3 linked regions of the Homo sapiens genome follow. The protein of the gene in region 2 purifies or fractionates together with the protein of the main gene of each other region. This does not show direct contact. Each region holds a gene or a part of one and is shown on either strand. Other genes may lie near its edges.

The links.
Region 1: the proteins of XXYLT1 (region 2) and PLAA purify together in Homo sapiens (co-immunoprecipitation; 2 studies listed by BioGRID and IntAct, with this or other methods). This does not show direct contact.
Region 3: the proteins of XXYLT1 (region 2) and NOTCH2 purify together in Homo sapiens (co-immunoprecipitation; 2 studies listed by BioGRID and IntAct, with this or other methods). This does not show direct contact.

Annotation. Positions count from the first base shown.
Region 1 is NC_000009.12:26,937,184-26,944,291, forward strand, and holds part of PLAA (phospholipase A-2-activating protein), read right to left. Parts: intron 1-7,108. UniProt on the Homo sapiens protein: Plays a role in protein ubiquitination, sorting and degradation through its association with VCP. Involved in ubiquitin-mediated membrane proteins trafficking to late endosomes in an ESCRT-dependent manner, and hence plays a role in synaptic vesicle recycling.
Region 2 is NC_000003.12:195,156,059-195,163,166, reverse strand, and holds part of XXYLT1 (xyloside xylosyltransferase 1), read left to right. Parts: intron 1-1,589; exon of another isoform or gene 1,590-4,307; coding exon of another isoform or gene 4,308-4,326; intron 4,327-6,585; coding exon 6,586-6,718; intron 6,719-7,108. UniProt on the Homo sapiens protein: Alpha-1,3-xylosyltransferase, which elongates the O-linked xylose-glucose disaccharide attached to EGF-like repeats in the extracellular domain of target proteins by catalyzing the addition of the second xylose.
Region 3 is NC_000001.11:119,919,589-119,926,696, reverse strand, and holds part of NOTCH2 (neurogenic locus notch homolog protein 2 isoform 1 preproprotein), read left to right. Parts: intron 1-85; coding exon 86-198; intron 199-886; coding exon 887-1,392; intron 1,393-2,712; coding exon 2,713-3,060; intron 3,061-3,918; coding exon 3,919-4,061; intron 4,062-4,250; coding exon 4,251-4,461; intron 4,462-4,887; coding exon 4,888-4,984; intron 4,985-6,299; coding exon 6,300-6,468; intron 6,469-7,083; coding exon 7,084-7,108. UniProt on the Homo sapiens protein: Functions as a receptor for membrane-bound ligands Jagged-1 (JAG1), Jagged-2 (JAG2) and Delta-1 (DLL1) to regulate cell-fate determination.

The sequences.
Region 1 (7,108 bases), on a different chromosome or scaffold from region 2:
CTTCATTTTCCTCTTCTGGGAGCAAGATAATAAAGACTAAGATATTCAAAAGGAACTACATATATGGAAAAAATTAGAAAGTGAAAGTGCATGCCCAGGGAAAAGCACAGGCTCAGAAAAGACTGAGAAGACTAAGTTTACATCTTAGCCCGATATTTGAAACAAAGACACCCTTCAACAACAACAACAACAAAAAGATAATACACAAAAACATAACAAAAAACAGCAAACCCTGGAAAAGGGGAAGAATATGATTTCTAGAGTTATATTATTAGATTAAATGTTCACTTTCAACCACAACAAAAAAATCACACGCATACAAATAAACAGAAAAGTATGGCCCATTCAAAGGAAAAATTAAGTCAATAGACACTGTCCCTGAAAAAGACCTGGCAGCAGATCTACTAGACAGAGACTTTAAAACAACTGTTTTAAACATGCTCAAAGAACTAAAGGAAGATGGAGAAAGTCAAGAAAATTATGCATGAAGAAAACTGAAGTATCAGTAAAGAGGCAGAAAACCTATAAAGAAACCAAAAAGAAATTATGAAGATGAAAGGTATGATAACTGAAATGAAATTATTCACTAGACAACTTGAAGACAGATTCAAGCAAGAAGAAATAATTAGCAAACTTGAACATAGGACAGTAGAAATTATCAGGTTTGAAGAACACAAAAAAAGACTGAAAAAAAAAAAAATGAACAGAGCCTAAGGGACTTGTGGAACAACATGAGGTAGGCCAGCATACAGATTGTGGCAGTCCTAGAGAGAGGGGAAAGGGAGCAGAGAGAATATCTGAAGAAATAATGGCTGGAAACATCCCAAATTTGATGAAAGACATGAATATAAACATCCAAAGAAACTCAACAAACTCCAAGAAGATAAATTCAAAGAGACCCACACCAAGTCACATTATATTCAAACTTAAGAAAGGGAGATACAAAGAATCTTGAAAGCAGTAAGAAAGAAGTAACTTATCACATACAAGGGATCCTCAATAATATAATTAGTAGATTTCTCATCAAAAACTTTGGAGGTCAAACTGAGTGCAGTAGCACACACCTGTAGTCCCAGCACCTCAGGAGACTGAGATAGGAGAACCGCTTGAGCCCAGAAGTTGGAGGCTGCAGAGTGCTGCGACCACACTCAAGAACAGCCACTGCATTCCAGCCTGGTCAACATAGCGAAACCCCATCTTGAAAAATTTTTTTGGAGCATTAGCTAGGTGTGATAGTACACACCTGTAGTCCCAGTTACTTGGGAGGCTAAGGCGAGAGGATCCCTTGAGCCTGGGAGTTTGAGACTTAAGTGAGCTATGACTGTACCACTGTATGCCCGCCTGGGCCAAAAGAGTAAGACACCATTTCTTAAAAAAAAAAAAAAAAAAAAAAATGGTGAGGGAGTTTGCTGCCATGAGACCTCCCTGTAAGAAATGCTTAAAGGAGCCTTCTCGCACAGTGAAATGAAAACACACTAGACAGACTTGAAGCAATATGAAGAAATAAAGATCTCAATAATGGTAAATACGATAGTGGTTTATAACTCTACCTTTTGATTTCTATGTCATTTAAGAAACATTACATTAAAAAAATTAGCCTAAAAGCTAATGATATTGTAACTTTGGTTTGTAACTCCAAATTTTTCCTACATAATTTCAGAAATTAAGGCATTTAAAGTAATTATTACTTTATGTTTTTAGGACACAGAGTACATACAGATGTAATTCTGTGACACCAACAACCAAAAGGGGTGAAGATGGAGCTATAAAGAAGAATTTTTGTTTGTTATTGAAGTTAAATGTATACATTCAAATTAGAGGATTACAACTTTAGGATATTAAATATAATCCTCATGGTAAACACACACAAAAATAGAATATACACTAAGGAAATGGGGAAGGAATTTAAACATAAATAAACTAGGCCGGGCGCCGTGGCTCACGCCTGTAATCCCAGCACTTTGGGAGGCTGAGGCCGGCGGATCACAAGGTCAGGAGATCGGGACTATCCTGGCTAACACGGTGAAACCCCATCTCTACTAAAAATACAAAAAATTAGCCAGGTGTGGTGGCAGGGGCCTGTAGTCCCAGCTACTCGGGAGGCTGAGGCAGGAGAATGGCGTGAACCCAAGAGGTGGAGCTTGCAGTGAGCCGAGATTGCGCCACTGCACTCCAGCCTGGGCCACAGACTGAAACTCCGTCTCAAAAAAAGATAAAAATAAAATAAATAAATAAACAAACATATAAATAAATAAATCAACTAAACACAAAAGAAGACAGTAATGCAGGAGATGAGAGACCAAAAAAAAAAAAAAAAAAAACCAAACAAACTTTAAGGCATATAGAAAACAGACAGCAAAATGGCATCGGTGATTACTTTCAATGTAAATGAATTAAATTCTCCAATCAAAAGACAAAGATTGGCAGAAACCATTTTAAAAAACATAATCCAGCTCGGTGCTGTTTATGAGACTCACTTTAGATCCAAAGACACAAATATACTGAAAGTGATAGGATGAAACAGGATATTCCATGAAAACAGCAAACAAAAGAAAGCAGGAGCAGCTATATTAACATTAGACAAAATTGACCTTAAATCAAAAAAAGAAAACAAGAGACAAAGAAGGATATTATATATTAATAAAAAGTTCGGTACAGGAAGAAGATATAACAATTATAAACATTTATGCACATAATATATAAAACAAAAACTGACATAATTGAAGTGATATATAGATAGTTCTACAATAATAGTTGAAGACTTCAATATCTCAATCTCAATAATGGATAGAATAATCAGACAGAAAACATGTAAGGAAAAAGAGGACTTAACAAAATAAATCAACTAGAACTAACAGACATACAGAATATACTACGTGAAAGCAAAGACACCTGCTACAGAAAAAAGTATGGAAATTCCTAGAAAAATTAAAAATAAAATTACCATATGACTCAGCAATTCCATTTCTGGATATATTCCCAATGGAAATGAAAGCAGGATCTTAAAGAGATATGTGTATAACCATATTCATAGTAGCATTATTCACAATAGCTCAAATGTGGCATCAACCTAAGTGTCCATCAATGGATGAATAAACAAAATGTGGTATAAACATGAAATTTTATTCAGCCTTAAAAAGGAGGGAAATTCTGACATATGCTACAACATGGAAGAACCTTGAGGACATTGTGCTAAACGAAATAAGCCAGTTATAAAAACACAAATACTGTATGATCCCACTTATATGTGGAACTTAGAGCTGTCAAAATCATACAGACATAAAGTAGAATCGTGGTTGCCAGGGTCTGGGGGTGGAGACAATGAGTTATTGCTTAAACAGGTACAGTTTCAGTGTAAAGAGATAAAAAGAGTTAAAAGATGGATGGTGGTGATGGTTACACATTATGAATATACTTAATACCATTGAACTGTACAGTTTAAAATGGTTAAGATGGCAAATTTTATGTTTTGTGTATTGTATCACAATAAAAAAACTGGAGGAAAAGAATTAACAGCACTATATACCTCCAGAGGTGAGGACAAAGAGGCAGGAACTAAGATAAGAAAGACTAATCGAAAGTCTTCAGAATCTGAAGCATTATGAAAAAGTCTTCAAAGAAAGATACCTGGTAGTAACCAATTTCAACTTGTTCACTTCATTTTAGGGGGTGTTGTTTTTGTTTTTTAATGCTTTTGAAACCATTTTATCAATAAGCCCAGAGGAAGTCAAAAGATAGAACATGTTTTAAAATCTGTATTATGTAAACCACTAAATCTACCCACTATGTGTAACCCTTAACACTTCAAAGCATAGATGTTTGTGTGCATCTTCGGTAGTGGTCTGTGAAGTTCTTAATGGCAGAATCCAGATTAGGTTCTTTGTGTCTTCCCAAGTCCCTAGCACAATGTTTTAAATGGTTAGCATTAAGTATTTCTTAAACTGATTTTAAAAAATACTTAAGGTATTAAGACAAAAAAAAAAACAAAAACAAAACACGGGGGGTGGGGGAGGGATGTGCAGCTAGACAACCCAGCCAGACAACTGTCCTGCTAGTACTCAGCAAAAGTCTGAAGCTTTTTCTTTAAAAAGAAAATCTTTGAATGGGGGGACATAAGGATAGTTGAGTCTTGGGAGTGTGAAGAATGTGTATATTCCTACTGGAGCCCAAGACCACCAAAAGAAAACCCTGGAAACCATACCCTCATCCTCTAGGCAGCAGATCAGCCCAATATAATGGCCCTACCAGATAACTCAACAGTAAAACTCACAACCAGCAAGCCCCATCCAGGAGCACAGATCTCCCAGGAGCTTCTTAATTCTCTACCCATAACACTGAGCACACAATAAAGATTACCAGACATCTGGGGAAAGCCTCCAGCATGAAATACAGTGATCAAAACAAATAGAGATGAGAAAAAAACCAATATGGAGGAAAACAGACCATTAAGGAGGAAATACCTTAAAACATTTTTTTAAATTGTCATTATCATCCTTAGAGGTATAAGATATTGCAACCATGAAACAAGGACATAATTTCACAAAGTCAAGGCAACCTGCTAGAGATTACAGCCAAGAAAAAAAAAAAAGAGAGAAATTTAGAAAGCAAGTTCAATATCTGAATAAAAACAGTTCCAGAAAAAAGAAGACAGAAAAAATAAAGAGAAAGCAGCCAAAGAATTAATTGAAGAACATTTCCCAGAATTTATGGACATGAGTTTTCATATTAAAAGGGCCCGCCAATGGCCTGGAACAATGGATAGAAGTAGACTGCCTTCCAGAAAGAAAAAAAAAATAGTTCAAAAATCAGAATGGCTTCAGACTTCTCAACAGTAACACTAGAAGATGAAATACAATGGATTCCATCACAATTCTGAAAGAAAATTATTTTAAAATTAGAATGCTACAACCATTCAAATTATCATGCCAGTAACAAGGCAAAATAAAATAACTTTCAGACTTGCAAGGTCTTAAAACATTTATTACTGATGCACTACATTTCAGGAAGCTCTTAGAGGTTATGTTCCAATAAGGCAACAAGGAAGAAAACCAACCAAGAGAAAGCTAAAGGATACTGACAATAAAAATCCAACATATGAGGTTCAAAAAAGTTGTTTTGGAAACAACAATGAAGGGAAATCCTAGGATTAGTTGTGCATCAGAGGTAGACAGACCAGGTCAGAAAGTTTGCATTGTCAGGAGAGGAAATTGTAAAATATCCAATGTATCTAAAGGCCTTAAGAGGTGATTCGGTAACGAACAAAGACTTTGAAATTGACTCAGTGATAAATACATAGTAAGCTAAGCAAATGAAAACCAAAATAAAACAATTATTAGCCACATGCAGATCATAAAATTGTTGAGGAAGAGTTATCATAGATTATTCCACAGCTTAAATTATAAGAGTCAGAGCACGGAGGCCGGGCATGGTGGCTCACGCCTGTAATCCGAGCACTTTGGGAGGCCAAGGCGGGCGGATCACGAGGTCAGGAGATCCAGACCATCCTGGCTAACACTGTGAAACCCCGTCTCTACTAAAAATACAAAAAATTAGCCGGGCGCCGTGGCGGGCGCCTAAAGTCCCAGCTACTCGGGAGGCTAAGGCAGAATGGCGTCAACCCGGGAGGCGGGGCTTGCAGTGAGCCGAGACAGCGCCACTGCACTCCGGCCTGGGCGACAGAGCGAGACTCGTCTCAAAAAAAAAAAAAAAAAAAAAGGCACAGAAAAAGATGCATACGTGATGGGGTGAGTGGAAGGCAGAAAGAGAGCTAAATTCTCATATTCTACAGTAGGAACTAATAGATTACAACTAAAAAATCTATTAATATAGATTAATATAATCAGATCCTATATCTGAAGATGTGTCTTCAAGCATGGGTCGTTTTTCAAAAGGCAAGGCAATATAAAGGCAAAGCTGCTGAAGTCCTATCTCACTCATCTCTCCCCACCCAGAAGTCAACGACAGACTTGGGAAATGTAATTTAGCTTGAAGCTAGCTTATAGAGACCTGAAGTAGTCTGAAACAATGGCATGTTGCTGGCTCAGTTCAATGCCCAACCAACAGATATGTCTCCACTCTGAAGGTCCAAAGACTTTCTGGGTTTTCAAAGGGCTTTTGTGAAAGACTAGGTACCTGGTTTAGTCTACTCTAAAACAGAACTATTTCTGCCTCCCTAGAACTAACTTTCCCCATTATTCCCAGTCCATCCCTACATTTACTACCCTGATCTAGAACCTTAGCAACAACATACATGGAAAGCAGTGGTAAATTCATTTGCATCAGAGGTAGACAGACCAGGTCAGATTCAGTAAGAGGCAATTCAGTAATGAACAAAGAATTTGAAGTTGAATCAGTGGTACTGATTCAAATTTACAGTGGTAAATTTCATTTACCACTTGGCTACATGGGAAAGCAAATTTCATTTACGACTTCACTCCAAACATTTATAGCATTTCATTAACTCTATTAATATGCTGTTATGAGCTGGGAGTGGTGGTTCACACCTTTAATCCCAACACTTTGGAAGGCTGAGGCAGGAGGATTGCTTAAGCCCAGGAGTTTGAGACCAGCCTGGGCAATCTAGTAAGACGCTCATCTCTACAAAAATAAATAAATAAAAATTAGCTGGGCATAGTGGTTCTTGCCTGTAGTCCCAGTTACTTAAGAGGCTGAGGTGGGAGGATTGTTTGAGCCCAGAAGGTCGAGGCTGCAATAAGGCAGTGATCATGCCATTGCATTCCAGCCTGGGCAACAAAGCAAGACCCTGTGTCAAAAAAACAAAATCACACAAATATTCTATTATGGCCTGAACGTGTCCCCCAAAGTTCATGTGCTGGAAACTTAACCTTCAATGCAACCATGTTGAGAAGTAGAACCTTTAAGAGGTGATTAGATCAAGAGGGTTCTGCCGCCATGAATAGATTAATGTCATTATTGCGGGACTGGGTTAGAGAGTGGCTTTGTTACAAAAGCAAGTTTGGCCCCTCTGCGCCTCTTGCTGTGTGCTCTCCTACCCTTCCACCATAGGATGATACAGCAGCAAAGAGGCCCTCTCAAGATGCCGATACCTTGATAATGGACTTCCCAGCATCCAGAACTATGAAAAATA
Region 2 (7,108 bases):
TTCTATCCAAAAAGGATTGCTTTCTACAGCTTCTCCCCCAGGGGTCTCTGAAAAAAAGCCTGTTGGTGAAGAAGAAAGACTAAGCATCATCGGTCTAACTGTTGTGAACAGAGTCCAGATGTGTTCCTGCCTCAAATAGGAAAGAATTTAAGCTTTTAGAGACAAAAAAAAACCAAAAACTTATAGCAGACACGAGAGAGATGTGAACTATGGAAAGGCCAGCAGGGACCATGGACATCCTTACCATAGAAATGGAAGATTTTCAGATCTCAAATTCCATTTCCCCTGTGTATTGAACTACATCAATCCGTGCGTAAGCCATCACTTCATATTGGCAATAGAAGCGAGAGGGAAATTTACATTGGGTGTTATATGTGCTGTCTTATGTAAGTCCCCCAAATTTTTCAGCCAAGTTCAAAATAAATTCTGTCCTATCCTAAAGGATATGATTTATACCTCTTAGCAGAAGGTGCTAAGGATGAGGAAGGAGACTCATGTTACACTGTTGCTGAAGCAAAAACTGTGTCTTCTCATGATAATTTGTTTGGTCCACAAAACAGGAGCTGGGCGCTATAAACAATGCCATGGCTGAGCCATAGCCAACACAGTTTTTCATGCTTCATTTTGAGAGGGGGCGAGTAAGGCCTGAAGAAAGTTTGTTGTACAGCGAATATATGAAACTGGCTGTGGTTATTCATTTCAACTTCCTGGACCCAAAACCTTTTACCAGAGCTGCTAACAGGTTGCATAAATCACTCTATGAACTCTGTTTCCTTTCTCCCCCCGACCATCCGAGGAGGGGCAGGCTGCTAATGTGGAAAACATAGATTAGCACAGTGAGAGTCAAGGCCTTCCTGTCTGGGCAGAGCCTGCAAAGCTGAGCGCTGGCCGTATCCTGGCTGCCCAGGAGCCCGGAAGGCAGGGCAGCATGGGCAGTGAAAAGCAGGCACCAGGCTGTCGAGCCCAACAGACGGGGTTTCGAGCCCTACCACTGACCAGCTGCGTGATCTTGGATTATTATACTTCTCGATTTCCTCATTTGTCAAGTGGAATTTTTTTTTTTTTTTTTTGAAACAGGGCCTCACTTGGTCACCCGGTCACCCAGGCTGGAGTGCAGTGGTGCGAACACAGCTCACTGCAGCCTCAGATTCCCGAGCTCAAGTGATCCTCCTGCCTCAGTCTTCCTAAGTGCTGGGATTACAGGCATCAGCCACTGCACCCAGCCAAATAGAAATAATATTAATCTCAGGGCTGGGCGTGGTGGCTCACACCTGTAATCCTAGCACTTTGGGAGGCCAAGGTGGGCGGATCACCTGAATTCAGGAGTTTGAGACCAGCCTGGCCAACATGGTGAAACCCCGTCTCTACTAAAAATATAAAAATTAGCCGGGTATGGTGGCGTGCCTCAGGAGGCTGAGGCAGGAGAATTGCTTGAACCCGGGAGGCGGAGGTTGCAGTGAGCCAAGATCGCGCCATTGCCCTCCAGCCAGGGTGACAGAGCAAGACTCCATCTCAAAAAAAAAAAAAAAAAATCTATATATCTATATATCTCATAGAGTGTTTAGATGATTCGGTGATACAAGGGCATAAAACCCTTTCTTCCAGAAGTTTCTCTATTGGTCTTTGTCAATGAAAGAGAATCCCAATAGTCTTCATGCTTCTTGGGGATGAGGGTCTTGTGGGAGGTGGTCATGGTTGGGGGTTCTGTCCATGAAGCCCCAGCCACTGCACAGAGATGATCTGGGGTCGTCTGCTATCTTCACCCTTGATGTGGAAGCATTTCTGGCTCATAAGAGGACTTTAAAAGGGACTTCAGAGATGTCCGAAGGCTTTTCTCAGAAATGTGTCGTGGCTCAAGCAAACTATCGAGCGAGGCGAATCTGTAATTGCTCTCCACCCTGAGCCTTTTTTGCTGAGTTGTCTTAAACAAATTACCGAAAGTCTCTGAGCATCAGGTTCCTCATCTGAAACTGGAAGATACTAACCACCACCTCGAGGAGACATGATGGAGGTTCATGGGCTGAATCAGCATGCAAAGCCTTCCCAGGGCCTGGCACACAGACATCCCTTCCCTGCTCCTAGAGGGTGAACATTTGTCTGGTCAGGCTGGAGGAGCCCCTAGAATCTGTGGCCAAGGCGCAGGACCCTTGGCAAGCTCCCCGTCTTCCTTTGTAGCCCCTATTCCTATAGTGAGCCAGCTGCCCTGTGGCTGGGCCTTGTCCTGGGAGGGAAATGGAGAAGAGCGCTTTGACAGAGAAACATCCAGCCCAGAAGCGACCCAAGTTTCTGTTGGATGTGAGATCCACCACCGCCAATTCCAACCGCACATCCCCTTGGGGACACGCCCTGGGTCTGTGCGTCGCGGGGCGGACCCTCTACCACATGCTCAGACCCTCCAGTGCGAGAAGCCAGCCTGGTCTGGCTGGTGGAGCACAGGGGGACCGTGCCTGTCCCGTGGGCCTCAAAACAACTCCTCTGGGGTCAGGATCCTCTCACTGTTAGGGGAAGTCTCCACCCCTTTCAGTTGCCCTTTGGCTCCCGCAGGCCAGAGGTGCTCCTGAACAGCAATTTAAAAACACCAGAGTATGATAAGGCAGGTGGCATATTGCTGCAATATTTCAAAGTGGACAATGGGAAAATTAGCCCCTTTTCCAGGCAGCTGCTTCCAGGTCCTCAGCCTCAGGACGCTGGAGTCACATAGCTTAATGCTGTCATCATTTCCCCTTCTCCCTAAACCCTCTCCCAGTTAGTGGAATTTGGGCTGATGCTCTGCAGTGAAAGCCCTCTAATGTGTTGTAAATATTTATCTCTGCAAATCTCTGAAGCCATTTCAAAACAGAAAGACAGAGGAGGCGCTTGCATGGTTCACCTGCCCCTCCCTGAAGGCCTGTTGTGTTTCCCAGGACAGTAGGCACTGTGCTTACCTGAGCATGTCTTTTCTTTGCATCGTTTCTTGATCTATTTTGTTGCGTGTTGCTTTTTGTGTGTTAAGATGTGTCTGCTAAGAATTGTTTCTGGGGATAGGAGAAGGGAAAGGAGAGGACAGAAGGCTCACTATTTTTTTCTTCTGGATTTTTTTTTCCTTTTCTTGTTTATTTTTGGGTATCATTAATTACTCACTCTGGGTTGTAATTCCACCCATGGTCAGATGACATGCTTGTGGCTGGTTTAATTGGATGCTGATGATGAGCCGAGTTGGCCCAAGCATGTCCTGGGAGGGAAATGGAGAAGAGCGCTTTGACAGAGAAACGTCCAGCTCAGAAGCGACCCAAGTTTCTGCTGGATGTGAGATCCACCACCGCCAATTCCAACCGCACATCCCCTTGGGAATGTTGATTTGAAAATCTCCCAGCTGGTACTGGGGCCGTGCATGTGGCCCTCTGTGGTGTAATTGTACGGAAGCATCGGCCGCCAGCCAGGCCTCAAACCCAGGCAGAAGACATAGGTGTTCTCAGCCCTGAAAATAGTCCCCTGGACAGCCAGGAGCTCCTGAGGAGTGCTGCCAGGGCCGTGACGGCAATGATGGTGACAGGGTCTTGGAGGTGTTGAAAGCTACACCTTTAGCTTGTACTCACTTGTCTTCATGCTGATATTTCCATGGGATGATATGCAGATACTCCACGAGCTAGTTGTGTTGGGTGCCTGGTTAGTCCTGAGCACACCCTTTGGTCCATTACACAATGCATTCTGCTCTCTAGGAGTTTATGGCCTGTGTTGGGAGTGGGTTGGAGGTGACGGGGCTAATAAACACAGGAGCATTAACTAGGGAGTCAGTAGACCTGGGTTCTGAGATCAGCTTTGCCACCTAGCTTGCGTGTAATGCCTGACAAGTCTCTCTTCTTGGCCCTCAGCTTCCTCATCTGTAAAATGGGTAGAGTGGCATCAGTTATAACCAGTGTTTTCAGATCTGCCATGCCATTCTTTTTGTTGCGTTTTCTCAAGATTTGGACATGGTGGACATTCAGGCAGCCTTGGGTGCTGGCCATTCTTGTGAGTCTTGTAGCTGTCTAGTCTTCCTTTTTCTCATTCTTCCTCATGATTCTTAGGTTTCATGTCTTCCTGGCTTTGGGGGCAGTTATCTCGTTCATTTATTCCTTACATTTCAGTGATCCTACTGCTATCATTTCAGCTATCCTCCAACCAGCATCTTCTCTGCGATGTTACTTCCATGGATCAGTCTCATTTTGTCCTCACAAAGCCTTCAGCGTTCTGTGTAACCCTCTTGCCCCCACATATTTCCCACAGAGAGACAGCTACCTCAAGGACCAGAGGCCAGAGGAACAGGCCCCTTTAGAAACCTCATCCTAATGAATTCCAGCATTCCTAGTAAGCATCTTTCTCTTCAGCAGTGACATTTACAACTTGGCGTCTTATTTCATAATTACATGAAGGGGCTAACCTCCTGGACAGGTGCCCGCAGGACAGTGCAGGCTGCACAGGGGCCTGTTGGCCTCCGGGAATAGAAAGGAGTGGCCTCCCATCTCAGTTGTTTTATATCTGTGTGAATGGGTCACTTTGTGCTGGAGTTGCCGCCTGTCTCCTTCCTAGTCGGTGGACCTCACCTGGTGAAGTGTTACCAACTTTAAGCAAACCCTTCCTGGAAGGTGCTTTAGGAAGGAGGAGTTGTAAATAACATCGAAGCAGCTCAGATTCTGGTGTCTTAGGCCTACATAGGACCTTTCTGGGTTTACTCCCAGTTGGTCCCTAAAGCGCAGGGGAAGTGCTCAGGTTTACTGAAGGGTATATTAAGACAAGATGAAGATGCTCATCCAGAAGCGTCTGATGGTCCTGAGCCCCGCCCTCCCAGCATATTCCCATTCTCAAGGAATGCCCTCTCCAGAAGGGTGGTGAGACAGGTACGCGGGTGGCCATGACCACAGGCAGGCAGACAGCCATGTGGGGAGCACAGAGCAGGAAGCCATGACTCCTGCAGGGCCTGTCTGGGGTGTTTAGGCTGCTGCTTGCAGAATAAGTAGAGTTTAGATGGCCTTGAAAGAGAGAGCACCTGTAGCAGGTGGTGGGCTTTCGATGTGATGATTGACAGGCTGACTAAATGCACGGCCCTTCCTCCCATCAGGAGTTTCTTTAGTTAGAGCAAAATTATCCCAAGTTCCTTAAATTGCCTTTGCACAAATTCTACATTTGGCCAGTGTGGTGCTGTGCTCCAGAATTCTGTTCCTCAAGGTCTCTAGGATCCCTGTAACACTGTCCATAAGCTATTTCCCACACAAGGCACAGGAGAACCTCCCCATTTTAGCCAATGGAACAGCTGAGGTGCAGAGAAGTAAAATAACTTTCCCTGGGTCACAGGGTCAATCAGCAGCAGAACTGGAAGTTGCACTCGTGTGTTCTGATTCCCAGGCCGGGTACCAGGAACTTGCTCTCGCTGCTTCATCATTGAACCCCATGCGCCCCCTCTTTGGACCTCCCACAGCTGCTCTTCCATTTCAGGCTTCAGCACTGGCCCCTCCCTCTGTTTTTTGCCACCCGCATGTCTCTCTTGAGGGCAGGGTCCTGGTCAGCTTGGTGCCTGGCACAACACCTAGGATCCTGGTCAGGCTGGGCTGGGTGAAGGATAGGGGAATGACCTTCGCCAGTGCCTCCCTCCTGTGCTTCTAGCCCGGAGTCACCTGGAGGTGATGGAAGCAGCTCTTAGGTGCCAGGTGATTGTGACATTGAAGAATCTGGGCTCATCCTGTCTTTTAGGCAGTGGATTAAAAACACTGTGGTATCTGAGATCATTCAGCCGTTTCGCTCTGGTCAGCATCTTCACTTGACACACATCTGGGTTTGCAGAACGCACTGATAAAGGCCTGAGACCATAATGTTTTTTACTTCTCTCTTGTGTGGGTTATTTATCACCTGTGCTCCAAAGAGGAAACACCTGGATGCTTTGAGGGTTTTTTTTTTTTTTTTTTTTTTTTGAGATGGCGCCTTGCTCTGTTGCCCAGGCTGGAGTGCAGTGGCGCGATCTCAGCTCACTGCAACCTCTGCCTCCTGGGTTCAAGCAATTCTCCTGCCTCAGCCTACTGACTAGCTGGAATTACAGGCACCTGCCACCACGCCCAGCTAATTTTTGTATTTTTAGTAGAGACAGGGTTTCACAATGTTGGTCAGGCTGGTCTCAAACTCCTGACCTCGTGATCTACCCGCCTCGGCCTCCCAAAATGCTGGGATTACAGATGTGAGCCACTGTGCCCGGCCCGCTTTGAGTTTTATGTAGGGAAGCAGGGTGTCCACATAAGGTATCATCCAAATGAGATACTTTTGAGAGTGAAATGGTGCACGGTTAACAGTTACATCAGGACAGCAGGCCGACACTGGAGCGTGTGGTCGCCTAGTTTTAAGCAAAATGGATGTCTGCAGTTGGAAGAAAAGACACGGGTAGTCGTTTGTGAAGACTAATAGTGTGGAGGGGTTGCTGGTAGATGAAAGGCCTTTTGTTCCAGCGGTAACTGTGCATCATTCACTGACAACAGTAAGAGTCCAGTGCCCTTTTCTCTGCCCTCCACTTCATTTTCTGTCCGTGGCCGAGCCTCCCAGGAGGTGTACCTGTGTCTCATTGTCCTTTTCTCTTTCCCGCAGAGATCCTGCAGATCATTCAGCTGGACCTAGACCTGAAGTTTAAGACCAACATCCGGGAGTTGTTTGAGGAATTTGACAGTTTCCTGCCAGGCGCCATCATCGGCATAGCCCGGGAGATGCAGCCAGTTTACAGGTGCGTCATGACTGCAGGGGGGCCGCCTCCACGACCCCTCCCCACCCTTCACCCTCTCTCTTCTGCCAGCCGTGACAGATTGGGATTTAGTGGCGTCCGATCCTTCTGCACTTAGTATCTTGGGAACACATTGGTACTTATTGCTTACAGTTGATTGTATGGGCAGGTGGGTCTATCCCAAGCCGTAGGTGCTACCTCATTATTTTGTTGGAGTTTGTGGCCTTTTTCTTCTGAAAAGCCCAGTTGTTCTGGTTGTTGGATCTGGTTAAGCTCAGAATTTTAAAATCTTGGGCTTTGCCTTACGGAGGAAGATTTAACTTCCCTTCTACTGACCAGCTGGGCTTTCTTGGCCTGTGAGTCACCAGTGACCCCCATTCTCTATTAGCAGAG
Region 3 (7,108 bases), on a different chromosome or scaffold from region 2:
AGTTCCCATCCCAGCAAAGTTTGTTGAGTAACTTGCAGTGACTACTTCTGCCTTTTAAAACCTTTTTTATTTTTTATTTTCTGAGGCCGGCACTGTGAAACCTTCGTCGATGTGTGTCCCCAGATGCCCTGCCTGAATGGAGGGACTTGTGCTGTGGCCAGTAACATGCCTGATGGTTTCATTTGCCGTTGTCCCCCGGTAAGTGCCCTGTTGCTCATCTAAGAAGGGGCATTGTCTCTTCCATACAATCTGTGAACAGAACTGAGATTAAACCTGGTTTTACCAATCTTCGAAATGGGAAGATTTCTCAATTTTAGCTCTTTCAGAGGAAAGTGCTTGGGTTTTTCCATTTAAAGCTGTTTACAAGTGACAAAACAAAACAAAAACAAATAAAAGCTGTTTAGACACTCCCAGAAACAGTGAGCTTCCCAATCCATGACTGTCAGTCTTAAGAAAAACTAAGGGAAAACCACAAAAAGTGGTGGAGTGCCCCCTTGAAAATAGGGCTGATGTGTGGGGCTTCTTGGCCCCAGGCTGGAGGGTAATCTCACTGCCCAGATTGGGCCAGAGTTGGTGGAAATGCTGCTCTTACATTCTTTAGCAGGAACCATTTGGAAGCAAGTTGTCTCTTAAAGTAGAGGGAAGCTCAATTTTAGCTATTTGCTATACCCATTCTTTTATCACTGCCAGAGGTTGAAACCTTCCCAAAACAAGAGATCCCTATGCCTCGGGAGATACCAAAAGGAAACCTGTCTAGTAACCTTGGCTTGGGCTGAACGGGAAGTACAGAAGGGAGTGAGATGTGGAGGTTTTCTAGAAACCTCAAACTTCCAATATGACTGTTTTCCTACCAATGCCATTTTTATTTCCTCACTGATTTCCACAGGGATTTTCCGGGGCAAGGTGCCAGAGCAGCTGTGGACAAGTGAAATGTAGGAAGGGGGAGCAGTGTGTGCACACCGCCTCTGGACCCCGCTGCTTCTGCCCCAGTCCCCGGGACTGCGAGTCAGGCTGTGCCAGTAGCCCCTGCCAGCACGGGGGCAGCTGCCACCCTCAGCGCCAGCCTCCTTATTACTCCTGCCAGTGTGCCCCACCATTCTCGGGTAGCCGCTGTGAACTCTACACGGCACCCCCCAGCACCCCTCCTGCCACCTGTCTGAGCCAGTATTGTGCCGACAAAGCTCGGGATGGCGTCTGTGATGAGGCCTGCAACAGCCATGCCTGCCAGTGGGATGGGGGTGACTGTTCTCTCACCATGGAGAACCCCTGGGCCAACTGCTCCTCCCCACTTCCCTGCTGGGATTATATCAACAACCAGTGTGATGAGCTGTGCAACACGGTCGAGTGCCTGTTTGACAACTTTGAATGCCAGGGGAACAGCAAGACATGCAAGTAAGGGCTTCACGTTTTCCAGAACTGAAGGGGACTGTCACTAACACACTTCAGTTTCTCGTTCTTGCTCCTAACCACTCCAGTGCTTCAGCCTAAGCTGCCTCTGCTTTTCAGATGGTGCCAGCCTTGTCCCATCGCACACTGCCCTGTGCTCTCCCTTGCTGACAATGGGCCAGGAATGCTCATTGCATAATGACCCTCTCTCTCTGCCTATCTTTGCCTTCTCACCTGCTGCCTTCGTGACCTCCTGGGGGATATAACTTTTGGAAGTGGTGTTTCCCACTTCAAGCAGCCTCTCACATAACCTGCCTGCAGGATGGATGGAAAGGTCTGTATCTCTCTCTTCACCCCATTCCTTTCCCTAAGACTGTTTTTCCCCATCTAGATTTATCAGGAAGCATGAATTAGATTAAGTCTGTGAACCCTCCCGGTCTTAATTGTATAGGATGCTCTATGGTTTACTTAGGAACTTTCCTATTAACTAGCCATTCCATATAATTTAATCCCAATTAATTCTCAGCAACTCACGAGGCATAGGTATTACTAACATTCTTTCATAGGTGAGAGAACTTAGGCCCAAGGGTTAAAGAACTTGCCAAAGCAAGTTGTTTCTTTGACTCCTAATCTTCTGATTGAGCTAGCATGAAAAGTTGTACCAAATAGTATAAATATCAAGGGGTAGGGGATGAGGAGAGGAGAGTATAGATGGAATAGTTTGTACATCATTTAGGTTTGGGGGTTCTAATTCCTTTTCCAAATATTGAAAGAGCCTGTACAAGTAATATCTGGTGTGCTATAAGGACATACCCATCTGCCTTTACCTTCTGTAGTTGGGATTCACTCTTGAAAGGGAAAGAAATGGGTCATGTTAATATTGTTCTCTGTATGGCAACTCTCAATGGTTCAGGGCCTTGTATCAAGTTTCTAGAGGCATCTTTCACTTCCTAAAGCCCGTTGTTACCTTACTGGGGGCAATGGATTTCTCTAAAGTAGAGGAAGCATGAACCAGGTTGACTTTTGTTTCAGATATGCAGCTTTGTTTGAAAACCTGACTTAACAGGCTTGTAAACTGCCTGGGAGCCCCTAAGCTCCTGCAGCATAGTGAGTACAATGTTCTTCATTTAGGAAGTACTCAACAAGGATGAGTGGCATAGGCATCAGGGATAGGAGATGCAAAGAAGGTTTTGTGGGGCATTTGGGTCCTGGGTGTGGGCCACAGAAAATGGGTAGGAAAATCCACAGTAGTTCCAAATGAAAAAGCAAATAGAGCTCCAGTCTAATCTGAGCTCTTTTGCCTGTTCTCTGCTTCCCCTTACCTAGGTATGACAAATACTGTGCAGACCACTTCAAAGACAACCACTGTGACCAGGGGTGCAACAGTGAGGAGTGTGGTTGGGATGGGCTGGACTGTGCTGCTGACCAACCTGAGAACCTGGCAGAAGGTACCCTGGTTATTGTGGTATTGATGCCACCTGAACAACTGCTCCAGGATGCTCGCAGCTTCTTGCGGGCACTGGGTACCCTGCTCCACACCAACCTGCGCATTAAGCGGGACTCCCAGGGGGAACTCATGGTGTACCCCTATTATGGTGAGAAGTCAGCTGCTATGAAGAAACAGAGGATGACACGCAGATCCCTTCCTGGTGAACAAGAACAGGAGGTGGCTGGGTAGGTGTTTGGTTTCTGAACTTCAAGGCTAATTTTATGAAGCCTAGCACTTTGACATATAGCACAAGTCATAACTCAACCTATAGAAATGCAAAGATCAGAAAAATAGAATGGCCCACCACTTAAGATAAACCCGTTACCCCAGTACTTACGTTTAAATGTAAAGATATGCCTTCGTCTTGGCTGAAAAGTGGGCAGGGGTACACAGGAGGCAGAATGTCTGGAAGGCCTCCTCAGATGCCAGAATCCATAACCTTTTGCCAGAGTTGCCTCAAATCCCTTTATTAGTGACATTCCTTTTTACATTAATCATTGCCTTATTGTTAAGGCCCTTCTTTAGAATATATGTCTCTTTGACACAGGTAATGATCTTCAGTTGCTCTGTCATTCACACCTCACTCTTTGTTGGTATATTGTCAAACTTTCAACCCTCCAGCTAGCTGAGATACCAATGCAGAGACAAAGGAAAATAAGGACTAAAAACACACAGGGATGTATGTTTAGAGTAGCACCAAGTACCACTGAGTAGGTATGAAAGAGTGGAAGAAGACCACTGAAACCTTCGGGAGGAAAGCACAGCTTCTCACTTTGTCATGCATTGCCTCAGCCAGAAGGCTTTGGTCAGCCAGACTAAGGAAGGTGGGACATCCTCTATGTGGGAATTAGTGTTTAAGATCTCAAGGGACAGTATTCTAATTCCTGAGATATGTCTTAAGGCAGCATCCCAGAGGTGGGGACCTGATGCTGAAGGGGAGGAAGGGAGGCTCCTGTCACCCTTTATGACATGTTCTGCCTGACCTGCACTCTTCTGTTTTACCCCCATCTCTCCTCCTCCGCTTCTCCCTTGGCATCCCACAGCTCTAAAGTCTTTCTGGAAATTGACAACCGCCAGTGTGTTCAAGACTCAGACCACTGCTTCAAGAACACGGATGCAGCAGCAGCTCTCCTGGCCTCTCACGCCATACAGGGGACCCTGTCATACCCTCTTGTGTCTGTCGTCAGTGAGTGGCACTGGTGTAAAGGGGAAAGGTGGCGGGGGAAGAGTGTCAATTGGGGGAACAATTTTCATTATGTAGCCCTCTATTTTTTCAGGACTGTTGAGGTCAAAGTTGCCCTCTAAATGAATCTAATGCTGACATTGAGAGGTTAATGTTTTATTCAGCACTTTCCCTGTCTCTGTGGACTTTCAGGTGAATCCCTGACTCCAGAACGCACTCAGCTCCTCTATCTCCTTGCTGTTGCTGTTGTCATCATTCTGTTTATTATTCTGCTGGGGGTAATCATGGCAAAACGAAAGCGTAAGCATGGCTCTCTCTGGCTGCCTGAAGGTTTCACTCTTCGCCGAGATGCAAGCAATCACAAGCGTCGTGAGCCAGTGGGACAGGATGCTGTGGGGCTGAAGTAAGAGGCATTGCCAATAAGCCACTATTCACAGTATAAGTAGGGATGACTAGAAAAGCATATCTTGTTGAATCATGATTTTAAATTCTAAGCTCTGGGCATTTACTCACATTGACCATGATTCTAAATGCCTTGTGAGTGACTGAAACCACAGTCAGAGCGTGGGTGCATCTATTCTGTGTATATTATCACAATGCCGCCCAGCTTCTGTGTTGAGGTGCCCTTTTGTTGTAAGCTCACGATCAATGGGAAGGGAAAGGATGAATGCCAAGGGAATGTCACCAAAAATACTGCCCATCTTCTCTGGGCCAAGACCCTGCAAAATTGTAATATAGCCACGGGAGTGTGTCATGGTGGAAAGTGTTGAAAACCACTGTATTAGTTTATGACTGCCATTCTTATTTTTTCTTTTTATAATCATATTAGAAATCTCTCAGTGCAAGTCTCAGAAGCTAACCTAATTGGTACTGGAACAAGTGAACACTGGGTCGATGATGAAGGGCCCCAGCCAAAGAAAGTAAAGGTGAGGTGGCCATGGTAGAACCACCATTGTCAGCCATTATCTGGTTACATTTCAAATTTCTGTCCTTTAGCTCCAGAGTGTCCTGAATGGGAGTAAAGAGTGATAGTCTTGATGTCTTACCCAGACAATAACTATCCTAGGTTCTCCTAAACAGCAGGAATCCTTAGGACGTAAATGACCTTGGGTTACCTATATATGCTCTTCAAGAATAACTCTTTAAAAATACTAAGCACATCTGTTTCCTTTAGTGTTATGCTGGCAGTAGTCAAGTCAGGAATGGTGTGTGTAGATGGCAATTCCTTCATGGCCACATCTCTTCCTTATCCTTTATGGGCACTTCTTCTATAAGAGAAGATGAAATTAAGCAGTGGAAGAAAGCCAGTTATCATTGACATTGGCAAAATGAAAGCCAGTGATCATGGCAAAACGTTGACATTGGAGGCTCCATACCTTGAGCCCAGGAAACTAAAGCCATATAAAAGCAAGTGGTAGATTGGGCTGAGACTGACATGAAAAAGCAGACCATCCATCCACAGCTGTGCATGGCTGGGAGCTGGTGGAGCATGATGGTTAAGAAGATTGCTTTAGTTAATATCAGAACTGGATTCAAATCCAAAACTCTGCCGCTTAGTAGCTGGCAAGTTACTTAACCTCTTTGTAATTATCCTTCCTTGTAAAATGCGGATAATAATAACCCTTTCCTCTGTGAGTTGTTGTGTTGGCATATGTGCCTTATCTACTTTCCTGTCATGTACTAGGTATTCAGTAAAGGGTAGCTGCTTTTAAATTATCATGATTATTATTATTGAATAGTCTTTCCTGAGTGCTTACTACATGTTGGGTGCTATGTTGAGTACAAGGAAACAACCTTGAACAAGGCTTATTTTCCCTTCTTGAGAAGCTTACAGCCTTGTGGTGGAGATGGCCATGTAGTGCTGTGTAAGCATTTAACACATGATCAGTTAAGCAGAGGTAAGCAGAGTATGCTTTTTAGGGCCAACAAGAAGAATTAAAGTTTACTTTCTAGTGGAGGGTAGGAAAAGTGAGAATTGGGTGCTCTGGAGATCTAAAGGCTAAAGCCTAGAGTTTGGGATTGGGGGAGGGAGTTGTCTAGATGATGCAGGAAAGGTAAGCAGGAGCCACATCACGAGAGCAGTGGGAAGCCAAGGCTGAGGTAATCCTCTGGAGGGGTGGAGGAGTAGGAAGAGAGAAAACAATGGGAGATAAGCAGCGGTGGTGGAGGCTCTGGACACCTTCTGATTAGCAGTTTCTGGTGGTGGCCAGATTGATAGGGAGCATTGTTTTCACCTTTCAGGCTGAAGATGAGGCCTTACTCTCAGAAGAAGATGACCCCATTGATCGACGGCCATGGACACAGCAGCACCTTGAAGCTGCAGACATCCGTAGGACACCATCGCTGGCTCTCACCCCTCCTCAGGCAGAGCAGGAGGTGGATGTGTTAGATGTGAATGTCCGTGGCCCAGGTCAGCACCGGGCCTCTTCCCCTCTTCACTGGGCTGTGTCTGCCCATGGTTCCACATTGTTGTCCCTGTGTTTGCCCTGTCCAGTCATAAACCCCTTCCCAATTTCACAGACTCTAAATCAGCTCGAGGAAATGAATGCTTAAGGAATGTAGCCACAAAGAAATTATCAGCTCAGAAAGGGAAGGATTTCACATTGCTTCATGTACAGTGTGTTGAGACTAAACAGGCTGATAAAATGGGTTAGATTGTAGTGGGATAGAAAAATAATATCCCAAAGCAGAGGATAGTTAGTATCTTATGCATGTATTAATTGTTCTATTAATATTAGATATTTTTAAATGTCCAATTAAAATAACAGCACTTAAACTTGAACAGAAAAACGTGTTTAGAGAAGAGCCCCCAGCTTAAAAAGACTTGTACTTTCCCATTATTCTTTACAGAAATGATACTATCAGAGGAAAAGGTGGCAAATGTGAAACTAATAACCAGTTACTACAAGAAGTACAGGGAATTCTTTGCCCCTAAGAATAACTTTAGTCAAATAGAGCTGTTTCAACCATAGGGTTAACTACCTTCTCCTTCTTGAGTACTTTATGGAATTTTCCATTCCTACAGATGGCTGCACCCCATTGATGTTGGC